2 separate regions of the Homo sapiens genome follow, and region 1 is linked to region 2. The links come from fine-mapping of genetic effects on gene expression. Tissue or cell type: tibial artery. Region 2 holds a variant in brackets; the other region holds the start of a gene. All regions are shown on one strand. Distances are between the middles of the regions.

Region 1 (5,389 bases), 37 kb after region 2:
AAGCAGTGAAGAAAAACACTGATACCCAAAGGAAAGCCCAATATTTTAACGGATCTTCTCTCTAGAAATCCATTACATTAAAAAGACTTGAATAGAATTGAGCTAAAAGAATATTACTGGATGAGAACTCTTTCCCCCCACTAACGTAACAGCAGCAGCAAAATCTCACATGAGCATTCATGTGTACCTACTCACTTCAATAGTCATTAGCTCTTTTGGAGTAATTGTCTCTGGAAGTGGTGTTTCCTTACATAAATCTATGTGTGCTCAATCCTGGATCACTGAAGTCACTGGAATCAGTTATCTGCCATTTTATCCAGATGACCAACAGGCAGTTGTTAAATGATGCAGTTGAAGTAACCATGGACTAGTGCCAAATTCAAACCAATGACCTAGTGGTGAGCAATCCAGTGAGCCATGTATCCACCAATGCATATTTTAAATAAATCAACCAGAATGTGGGCTGTCAAAATTCCCAAAGATAAATCAAAGAGACAGGTGTCACTGCTTCAAACTATAGATATAAAATTGGTACATGCTATTAACTAATATCTGAATCCCAAGGAAGACCAGATAATGTGTTACCATAAACCTACAGGAGCTCTAGTGGCTACATCATGTAAAATAAACTCAGGACCATTAAAGAAACACAATCATTTTGCTTCTACCATAATTACACAATAAAGTGACCCAAGAGTCCAGTAAAGAAATTTATTTTTACAGGTTACAACAATGCTGATCTTCATTATTTGGCTTTTCAAATTAAAATTTCATAGTCAAAATTATTAAATTCTTTGTAAGAACCACTAACAACTGAAAAAGACAGCTTCATTAATACAGAATAAAAAGAATTAAATGGAATATGCAATTTTAAACAAAAATTGTAAGTAGATTTCCTAGGTGGTGCATATGTTATGAGAGTTAGAAATGAAATTGTACGCTTCTTTTACCACACAGATGGAGGAAACTCTAGAGATGTTTGTGTTGGTAATTTTCAAAAGAAACAGTTTCTTCCTGCTTCCACAACCTCTTCACCCTGTCATCCCTAAATTAACTTAGAAAGAAACTGATTTTATGGGTGACTTTCCCTCAGTAATTTACCCCTTGGTTCTGTTGACTTCATAGTTAAAGCCAAAAGAAAAAAACTATTAATATGCCTAACCTTTGTTATGTTTACTGAGCAAGTTGATATTATTTACACATTTTTTTTACATATTGGTATCTTACCTTATATGTTTCTCCCAAAAGTACATATACAACCAATTGCAAAGAATACTGGTGATACAATGGCAGGTGAAACGAAGATAGTCTACAGGGCAATTTGATTTACATCCCACCTAGTGATGAGGAGTGAAAGACTGAAAGCCAAGTGTCTTAAATACACCCCCGCCTCCCCAACAGTATCTTACAACTTCTTCCCTTTAACTCAGACACAGACGTTCCTCTTGGTGTTTTCACTTCTGCTGATCGCAAACTAACAACACATTAAGAAAAGAATTCTCTTATCTCCTCTGGAGCAATTTTGCCTTTGAAGGCACTGTAATACTCAACTTGAAACTCTCCGCAGGTGTCACCGCCTAAAGAAACAACTCGAGCAGGGCTCTCAGCAAGGGGAAAGCTTCCCTGACAAACCGCGTGTGTTCTTAAGAAAATGTCCAGGCTTGAGCATACCAATGTATGAAAAATCAATATACAGGCCAAAAAAGTTATACTTTGCTAAATCTGTAATGCGGAAAATGACCAATTTAGCTTACCGAGGTTGAAAGAAATCAGCACGGAAAAGTCATCAGTTTGCTACCGGGGTTGGATGCGCTTGTGTCTCCAGTCCTTTTCCCAGACGACCTTATTTTCTAGCACGTCGCAAAGGTGAAATTCTTTCTTCCCGGTCCTCTGAGTTTCTTTGTAAAGGAATCTCAGCGCTGCAGTGCCGCGGCACCCGGAGCTCTTCTCCGCGTCGCTCAATCAAGCACCTCGGAGTGAATGGAAAGTGGCCGGAGGCCGGGGGCGAGCGCTCTTGGTGTCCGATTACAGCGCCGCGGCGCGCGGCTCCGGCTGCCCCGGCGCGCCGCCCTGCAGGCTCGCATCACCACCGCGCAGCCCCGGCCGCATCTCCGCCAGCCGCGAGGCCCCACCCCGAGCGCGCCCGCGAGAGCCTGGCAGGGAGCCGCGGGGGCGGACCGGGCGGGGCCGACCCTTAGAGCTCGCGGCTGGCCAGACGCAAGAATGCGCGGCCGCAGGCTGGAGCCCTAGCTCCGCAACCCTGCTCCTTTCGCAGTCCGCGGCGGAGTGAGCAACTTGCTGGGTGCGCTCCACGGTTTTTGTTGCCGGCGGCTCTCGAAGACTTACACAGGCTTTGCCTGGCCGTAAATATCAAAGTGCAAAGCAGTTGTGGTTTTTTATTTTTGCCAGGGAAGGATCACTGCAGCCTTTTAAGGCAAAGAGATGCGTTTTTAAAAGGACGTGAGTTTTGTCCTTATTCTGCTGCGTTTTTTTTTTGTTTTTTGTTTTTTGTTTTTTGTTTTGTTTTTGGAGAGGGAATCTCACTCTGTCGCCAGGCTGGAGTGCAGTGCAGTGGTGTGATCATGGCTCACTGCAACCTCCGCCTCCCGGGTTCAAGCGATTCTCCTGCCTCAGCCTCCTGAATAGCTGGGACTACAGGCTCCCACCACCACGCCCAGCTAATTTTTGTATTTTTAGTAGAGACAGGGCCAGGATGGTCTGGATCTCTTGACCTAATGGTCCGCCCGCCTCAGCCGCCCAAAGTGCCGAGAGCCACCGCGCCGGGCCTCTGTTGCGTGTTTTCTAAAACAGGTCAAGATAAACGACAATCTTGTTGCACAAGTGTATCCTTTTAATGGGTATTGTTTCCTATTGAGTTTCCTTAATGCCCTGAAAGCAGTAATTCTGTTGACCCCTCCACGTTGACTCATATCCAGTACGTTGTCCCCAACCATACTCCCAAACATAATTACACGAAGAAATTATTTGACAATTCTATGTGGAGAGGCTGTTCTGAGTTATGCCAACAGATTGCCATAACCACACATCTACAGAAATACATCAGAGGTATTTTTCCAGCATTACTTTCAGGTACACTCGTTAAACTCTGGAACTGACTTTGATGTTTAAGTGAAAATTACTTCTCCGGACCACAATAAACTAGATGTTTAAACATCGGGAGAAATGAGCTTTGATCCCCATAAAACAAGCAGGCACTTGCTTAAAATCACTGTGGGGCACAGCCCAGCAGATGTCACTCTACAGAAGGAACGTGGAGTGTAATATCTCCACCTTATACCTGACAATTCACATAATGAAACAATCATTAAATTCTTATAAACTGTATCATAGAAAACCCCTCTGGGGGTGCAAAATCATTGTTCAGTGGGAAAGTTGAATGAAATCTCAGGTAGGAGGAAGAGGTGAGTGAGACACATCTTTCATGTGTCTGGGGCCCACCTCTTGTGTTCAGTAAACATACACGTGTCTCAGACTCACGCTGCATAGTCAAGGAACGAAGGATCAAGTCAAATAATGCAAATTTATGAGTTCAAAAATACTATTCCAGGGCTAATATTATCTCCAAACGTCAAAAAATTAATATAGTAACAACAGTTAAAATTATTTTTTGTGATGATGCGTGAGAAGATCCTTGACATAAATTTGTAATAAGGAATTTAACCCCCCAAAAACTGACAATATTAAAATCCAGATGTCAATGTGAATAAGCACTGTGCGTGCTTCTCTGAAATACTTCTGAAACTGAGTAAGATCCAGGTTATATACTCTCCACTATTATCCTCCTTCTGATATCTCATTCGGCATTTATATATTAAGCAGGGAGAAGAATAAATCATTAGAAAGATGAGTGTGTGGATTAAATTAATTTAGAAATGTGGAGCTGTTAGAAATTGATCAGCAAATTCACGTAAGATGGAATTCGTTTATACATTTTAAGTTTGAGAAAACCACGATAAAGAGTTGCAAGATGAAATGCATCTCAAACGGTGTATTTACAAAGGAGCTTAATTCCAAACTCAATTTACAAACACCAATGAATTAGCTCAATCTGTTACACATTCAGGGGTTTGGAGGCCTTGACAAATAGCTTAGATTTAATCACAGCCCATGAAATTTGTGCCGAAATTCCCTCAATATTGCTCAAATAAACCTCTTTTCAATGTGCTCCTGGGATTTAATGGTATTTGCTTAGCTCTGAGACGTTTACAGTTGGCCACACCTCAAAATGAATCATAAAAATACTGATAGGCTTTAGCCAAGATAGATTCAAGCGCAAGGACACAGTGCTCATGCTTGCCAGAGACTTAGGCCACAGAGTGGAATTTTAACAGTGGCACTAGAAGCCCCTAAGATTAATCTCTGCCCACATTTCCCCACACTGCTTAAAACACCTTGACAAAACAAGACTTGCCTAAGAAACATTTCTGGGCACTACCACTTTTTTAAGACTTCAGCTTTGACTGTCCTTACAAGTGGAAAACAACAGCTAATTGAGAACGCTGTTTTCGGTAAGGGGGACACTAAATGGATCTACAGGAGTAGTGGCACAACTAAATTTAGAGAGCACTAATTACAATGTTTGCACCCAGCAAAACGTTTCAGACGAGCGGCCAAACTAAAATACTTAGGATAACTTTTATTAAGACGTTTTAGAAATGGTGCAGTATCTTACACACTGAAGTGTCTCTGCCTGCCAAGGTGTAGTGGGCATATTTTTAATATTTTATGTTTTTGATGGTCCTGAGGAATGCTATTTAACTTAAAACTCTAGCACCGATGTTGAGTTACATACTTTTCTCCAGGAGTTTCTGCAGCTATACATTATCTTATTTCAAATTTAAAGAAAACAGATTTTTCCCTATTATACAGATGAGTCATGTAAATAAACTTTACCCTAACCAGAGAATATTAATCATTCAGAGGTTAAAAATTGTCTTATTATTTAGTCATAAAAACTGATATTTGTAATAGAAAATAGATTGTGTATTTGCGAGGTACTTTGCTTATTATCTGCATAGCATTCTTTAATGAAGTTACAATTTTCAATGAGAGAACGTTGAAGGTTTGCCCAAAGTCAAATGGGTAGTAAATATCAGAATAGGAAGAGAAACTCAAGCGTGATTGCCGTAATGTCTCAGGTTTTTCAATAAGTTTCAATACTTCCTCTTACCTTTTTTGCTTAACATTTTTCTCCTCTTTTCTACTTCCCTCTCTTTCTCCTTCACTCAACTTCCATATGCCATCCTTTTAAGTTTCCTGAACTGTATCTTTGGAAAGTCTCAACTTCCAATGGTTACTTACTTTATTTACATCAGCCTTACGTCTCCTTGGGTTACATTAGCAGCTCTGAGACCAAGCCGGTCAAACA
Region 2 (5,389 bases):
TATCCCCTTGGTTAAGTCCCTTATTCCATTCAAATCTTTGCTCAAATCTCAACATCTCCAGGAGGCGAACCCTGACTACCATTTAATACCACAGTCTGCCCTTTCCCCATCCTTGCAGAACACCATTAACCTACTCTGTGTTTTCTTGTCCACAGTACCTATCATTGTTTAAGATAGTGAATAATTTATTCATCATGTTTAGTGTTTTTTATCTGTCTCCTTCCACAAGAATATAAGATTCACTATAGTACAAGTACTTGTTCTGTTCAAAGATGTATTCTGAGTCTCTAACTCAGTATCTGGCACATAGTGCTAAGTATCTGTTAAATGAATGAATGAATTTGATGCTGTGGTGATTCTCACTATGTTTAAAAATCATAGTGGTTGCTTATCTTAGAAATACATGTTGGACAATTTACAGAAATTTTTCAAAATATCTATGCCTGGGGGGAAATGCAACTGAAATGTGTTCACTTTTACTTCCCTCCATGTATACGCCATAATCTTACCCAAAAGCAAATCACAGGCTGGGAGTGGTGGCTCACGCCTGTAATCCCAGTACTTTGGGAGCCCAAGGCAGGCAGACCACTTGAGTTCAAGAGTTCCAGATCAGCCTGGCCACCATGGTGAAACCCCATCTCTACTAAAAACACAAAAATTAGCCGGGCGTGCTGACAGGTGCCTGTAGTCCCAGCTACTCAGGAGGCTGAGACAGAAGAATCGCTTAAATCCTGGAGGTGAAGGCTGCAGTGAGCTGAGATCACATCACTGCATTCCAGCCTGGGTGACAGAGAGACACTCTGTCTCAAAAAACAAAAACAAAAACAGAAGTAAATCGGATCGCAGAAAGAAATACCTCATCATACCCTTTAAGGGAGTCTCTTACATTGCAAATATTCCATCACAATTATTCTTATAAAATTACAATTCTGATGATAATCTACTGAAGTTAATTTAATTGCAAGGATGTACGATGTTGTTTCTGATAAAGAATGATCTTCTACCAAAAAAATTCATGCCTGTTACTTTTGTTGCCTGGAGAAAGAAACACACACACACACACACACACACACACACACACACACACACACACTCTCTCTCATGTAAAGTTTTTCAATCATTTTAACCAAGAAGTCAATAAGACCAATAAGATTATTCTTCCAAATGAATCTCAAATATTGTTCTACTTATAGTCTCTTAGCTGGTTTTTTGTCATTTTCATATACCTGAAAATAACCTGTAAGTTATATGGAAATTTGCAATGTGTTTTATGGTGAAGTCATTTTGTTTTTTATCACTAACATAGCAACACTAGTTTCTAAGAAAACAGAATTGATACTTCCTCTGAGTGCACTCTGAGTTTTATACAATACTTACAAGAAATAATGAACAATTTCTGGCATCACTGGAGGGGTGTAAGTGATTTTACATGTGTAAGTGATTAGGAAACTGAATGCTGAATTCTCCCAGAGCTTATCTTTTGTAATATGGAAAATCAAACCTCTCCTACATGTGATATTTGTCTTAGTAATCATGGGAACAATTAACTGTGCTTACAATTGGCTTCATAGCAGCAGCAGCAATGAGTTGAAGTAAGGTTAGAGAATTAGATTCATATTGTTCCTTATGGAGATAACCCATTAGTAGGGCCTCTAAACAGGCAGTGCATTAATATGAAGACAGTGTGAGGGGGAAAATATCAAGCCACATAAAATTTGTTGTGATAGAGAAAGCTTGCTGAGTGTCATAAAAGGCTGAGGAGGTTTATCCACGTATGGATACAAGTATCATCTATTGGGGGACAAAACACAAAATAAACTACTCATGCAACGTTGTTGATTTAATAATAAATATTTTGAATGTATTATATTTAAATAAAACATAAATATCTCAAGTGAAGGAAAGATGTTGCATATAGAAGTATTTGCGCACACAAGAAGTGCCCACGTTCCTTCACTGTCCATCCACGAAGTACAAATTTTACCATCAGCATATAAAAGAACTACAATCACAGCTTATTGGTCACTATAAATGTAGCACAAATCACTACACCTCATTCTCAAAATGCCACTGACTCAATACTGTGTGGATCAGACCACTAAAATGCCTCCACACAAAATCTCAACCTCAATTAATAAAATGAGATGTTAATAATGTCTGTTTTATTGGCCTGAAATGTAACACACCTTCTGGCATTTTTATTTTCTTAGAGACTAAACCATAGCAAGGAGTTTGTGATCACTGTATAGCGCTGAGTGAAACCTCAAAATACATTCTGGAATTTGTAAGGGATGCTTTTTTTTTTTTTTTTTTTTTTTTTTTGGTATTTTCACTGTCAATTATGCCTCGTATTATTTATTTATTTGCCAAAATACGACTGTATGAAAAAAAGCTACCTCATAGAGCTCATGACACATAATAGGTATTCACTGAGCATTTGGTGATTTGTTAAGCACTCACATCAATAAAATATTTCAGCTCAACAGGCACACTAGGGGCCAGATGAGCACTGACTTTCCCCATTGAGGAGTCTCGATTACCTCATGTCTCACTTCAAACAATTTATTTTTCTTGTATGCATAGCTGGGTTCAAGAGTTCTTTCTTGTTTTAATTGGATATATTCTTTTTCTTTTCTTTTTGTAAGTCCTATAATACAGTAAAGACATCAAATAGAACCCTTTTAGAGTTATGTGGAAAACTTTTATATATAAATATTTTATTTGGACAGTTTTCACATAAAAATAGACATATGAAAATTTAAAAAAGAAAAGGTCCTGATGAGGAGGCTCCTATCAGAAAGTGACATTTACCTAAACCCTCTTATATAACAACAACAACAACAACAACAACAAACTAAAGGTAAATACACCTGAAAGATACAAAAGAGGATGCCATGAGATACACCTGAATCTCTGAGGAAACACGTTCTCTCTCTTTCATTAGGTAAATTGCTTTGAATGACTTCTTTCATGTTTTACTGTTATATACCTTTATATTTTATCTCTCAAGCATTTGTTAATACGCCACAAGCTATCCTATATGTGCTTTTTTTATACTTAGCAATGAACACAAAATGCATTCATTAACAAATAATTATACCAAATCAACAGCCTCCTTCTAAAATTAAAGGAAAGGGGTCTGAAAATGTTGCTTGTGACTAAGCAGGTTACGTCACACATGGAATTTAGATTCTGTTCCAAATCTGAGGACAGAAGCACACACC[T/A]TAGCAGGACCCCTTATTCCAATCACAAAAAGCAGAACCAGTCCCAGGAGTGTCTGTGTTTGAACTGTGCTTGATCTGGGATACTTTCAAACTGAATCAGAGGTAACTCATCTGAATTATCAAACAAAACTAATTATATAATCATAATCTCCTAAGATAAAAGTATGGGTTTTCCCTTAATACATGAACTTTTAAGATCAGGCCTCTTACTTCCCCAGTTGGATTTTTGCATACTCAGACATAAGGTCACCACCCTGTCTTTGGAATGACATTTTGTGTTTTTGTCCTATGACTCACCCATGCTTCTTGCTGTTCCTTCCATTCTGGACACAAATGAAGGCTCACAATTTGCCCTAAGGCATGTTTCAAAAGCAGCTTTACAGTGATTCACTGCCCTTTGGTCCTTCAGAGTATCAAAGCACATCTTTAAATCATGAGCAAAAAAAATGAGCACATCTTTAAATCATGAGACTTCAACAAAATGCAGTCATACCATTAATTAACTCATAATTCACAAGAATCATTGCTCAACTTTCATTTTTACTTAGCAGTCATTACTTCCCACAAGAAATGTTTTTAAGAGTCTGAACTAAGAGTGAGGCACTGTGATAAATCCAAGAGGTCGTTTCCTAACATCTAGGGTTTAAGTCACTGTCATGGCCACTTTATGAGCAGAAATTCCATTTTGGCAAAAATACTTGTTAACATGGTACATTTTCTTTGAATTGCATTAGTTTTGAATTTTAATTCTAATCTATTAATAAGCTCATTTTCATTTTATTGTTATAAAAAAAGTGAAAGCCCAAGAAATTTACCCGATTTTATATGCAGACAGATGTAAATGAAATCTCATACAATCAACTTGTTTCTCCTAAAAGATGTGAAATATTTAAGACATAACTATCCATCTGAATTTCCACATTTTATAGGTAATCTCAAAATTGAGATTAGTCCAAAATCATGAGTCTCTTAGTGAAAGCATCAAGAACAAGTTTCTTGACTCTAACATAGAGGACTTTTAACTACATTGTCTCTTCCTAACCGCTACAAAAATGTGAGACCCTCATAACTAACTTATCAAACATTAGATACTCTGTAAATATATCCGATTTTTTTAAAAGACTCCTATGATTCAAAAGGATGAATAAATTAATGAAACTTTTTACAGACTTCTGTATTGACAATTCTGTAGTGAAGATAAGTAGCAAATATTTTCCATCAGTCTAAACAGAAGAGGCAAGCAGAGGGAAACTTCAGCTTTTGAGGGAAAGTGTTGATGCGAGAATGTAAGCAGTTCACTCTCATACAAACAACGGCTTTGTCTGCCATGGAAGCTAGTGCAAGGTAACCAAGATGTAAACTCTAAACACATGTTCAGCAGAAATAGTAAAGTGACTGTTTCTTTGTAGAAGAATTTCTTTATGTGTTTATTACTGCTTTGATGTACACCATAAATTTCTGCTTAAAGGTCACAAGATTGTGATAACAAATCAAAAACCAGGTTGTGATAATATGTTGACGGTGTAGGAACACTGTGTAAAGAACTGGAGAATAATAAACATTAAGGCCAGTACCGGCATTTTAAAAATACAGATTAGATGCTCTTAAAAAATCTTCTAAAAATATTTGGTTCCCACAAAGTACAAGCAAAATATTTTACTGTTGAGTAGAATTCATTCTTTTTATGAAATCCTTGTACTTGAAAGCTTTCATAAGATTATCGTTTTGTGATGACATTTCTCTTTAGAATGAGACAAGAAAGACAATTCTTATAATTAAACGTGTTAACTGGTTTAATAGTTTTGCAACTCAGGATTTTTCCCAATATATTGTTTCTGAAGCAGAGTATCACCTGATGTCTGAAATCTAATACCTTTTTTTGTTTGTTTGTTTTCAGACATTTGGAAGATAGCTCTTCTCTACATTTTCCCCCTCTTTTATCCCTAGGTAAATTGTTTAAGGAATAGTTTTTGCCTTCTTAAAAAACCTGGATGACTGGGCTTGGTGGCTTACACCTGTAATCCTAGCACTTTGGGAGGCTGAGGTGGGCGGACTGCTTGAGCTCAGGAGTTCAAGACCTGCCTAACCAACATGACAAACCCCATCTCTACAAAGAAATGAAAAAATTAGCCAGGCATGGTGGTGCATGCCCATAGTCCCAGCTA

Which allele goes with the higher level. Alleles are on the strand shown, and positions count from the first base shown. SD is a standard deviation of normalised expression in the study named.
With allele A in place of T in region 2, the expression in tibial artery of the gene that starts at base 1,978 in region 1 is higher (moderate effect, 0.50 SD a copy in GTEx).

Evidence for each region.
Region 1: it holds the start of SEMA3C, and the variant in region 2 is fine-mapped to the expression of SEMA3C in tibial artery (GTEx, PIP above 0.99).

What each region holds. Positions count from the first base shown.
Region 1 is chr7:80,917,074-80,922,462 of GRCh38, forward strand. It overlaps SEMA3C (semaphorin 3C), which reads right to left and starts at 1,978. Exons shown (of 18, transcript NM_006379.5): 1 at 1,755-1,978. RefSeq lists an enhancer at 1,498-1,567 and a silencer at 2,115-2,244.
Region 2 is chr7:80,880,118-80,885,506 of GRCh38, forward strand. All of the region lies in intron 2 of SEMA3C (semaphorin 3C), which reads right to left. Among named protein-coding and RNA genes, the nearest start is that of SEMA3C, 36 kb to the right of the region's middle. RefSeq lists an enhancer at 3,180-4,379. The variant T/A (reference allele first, on the strand shown) is at 3,225.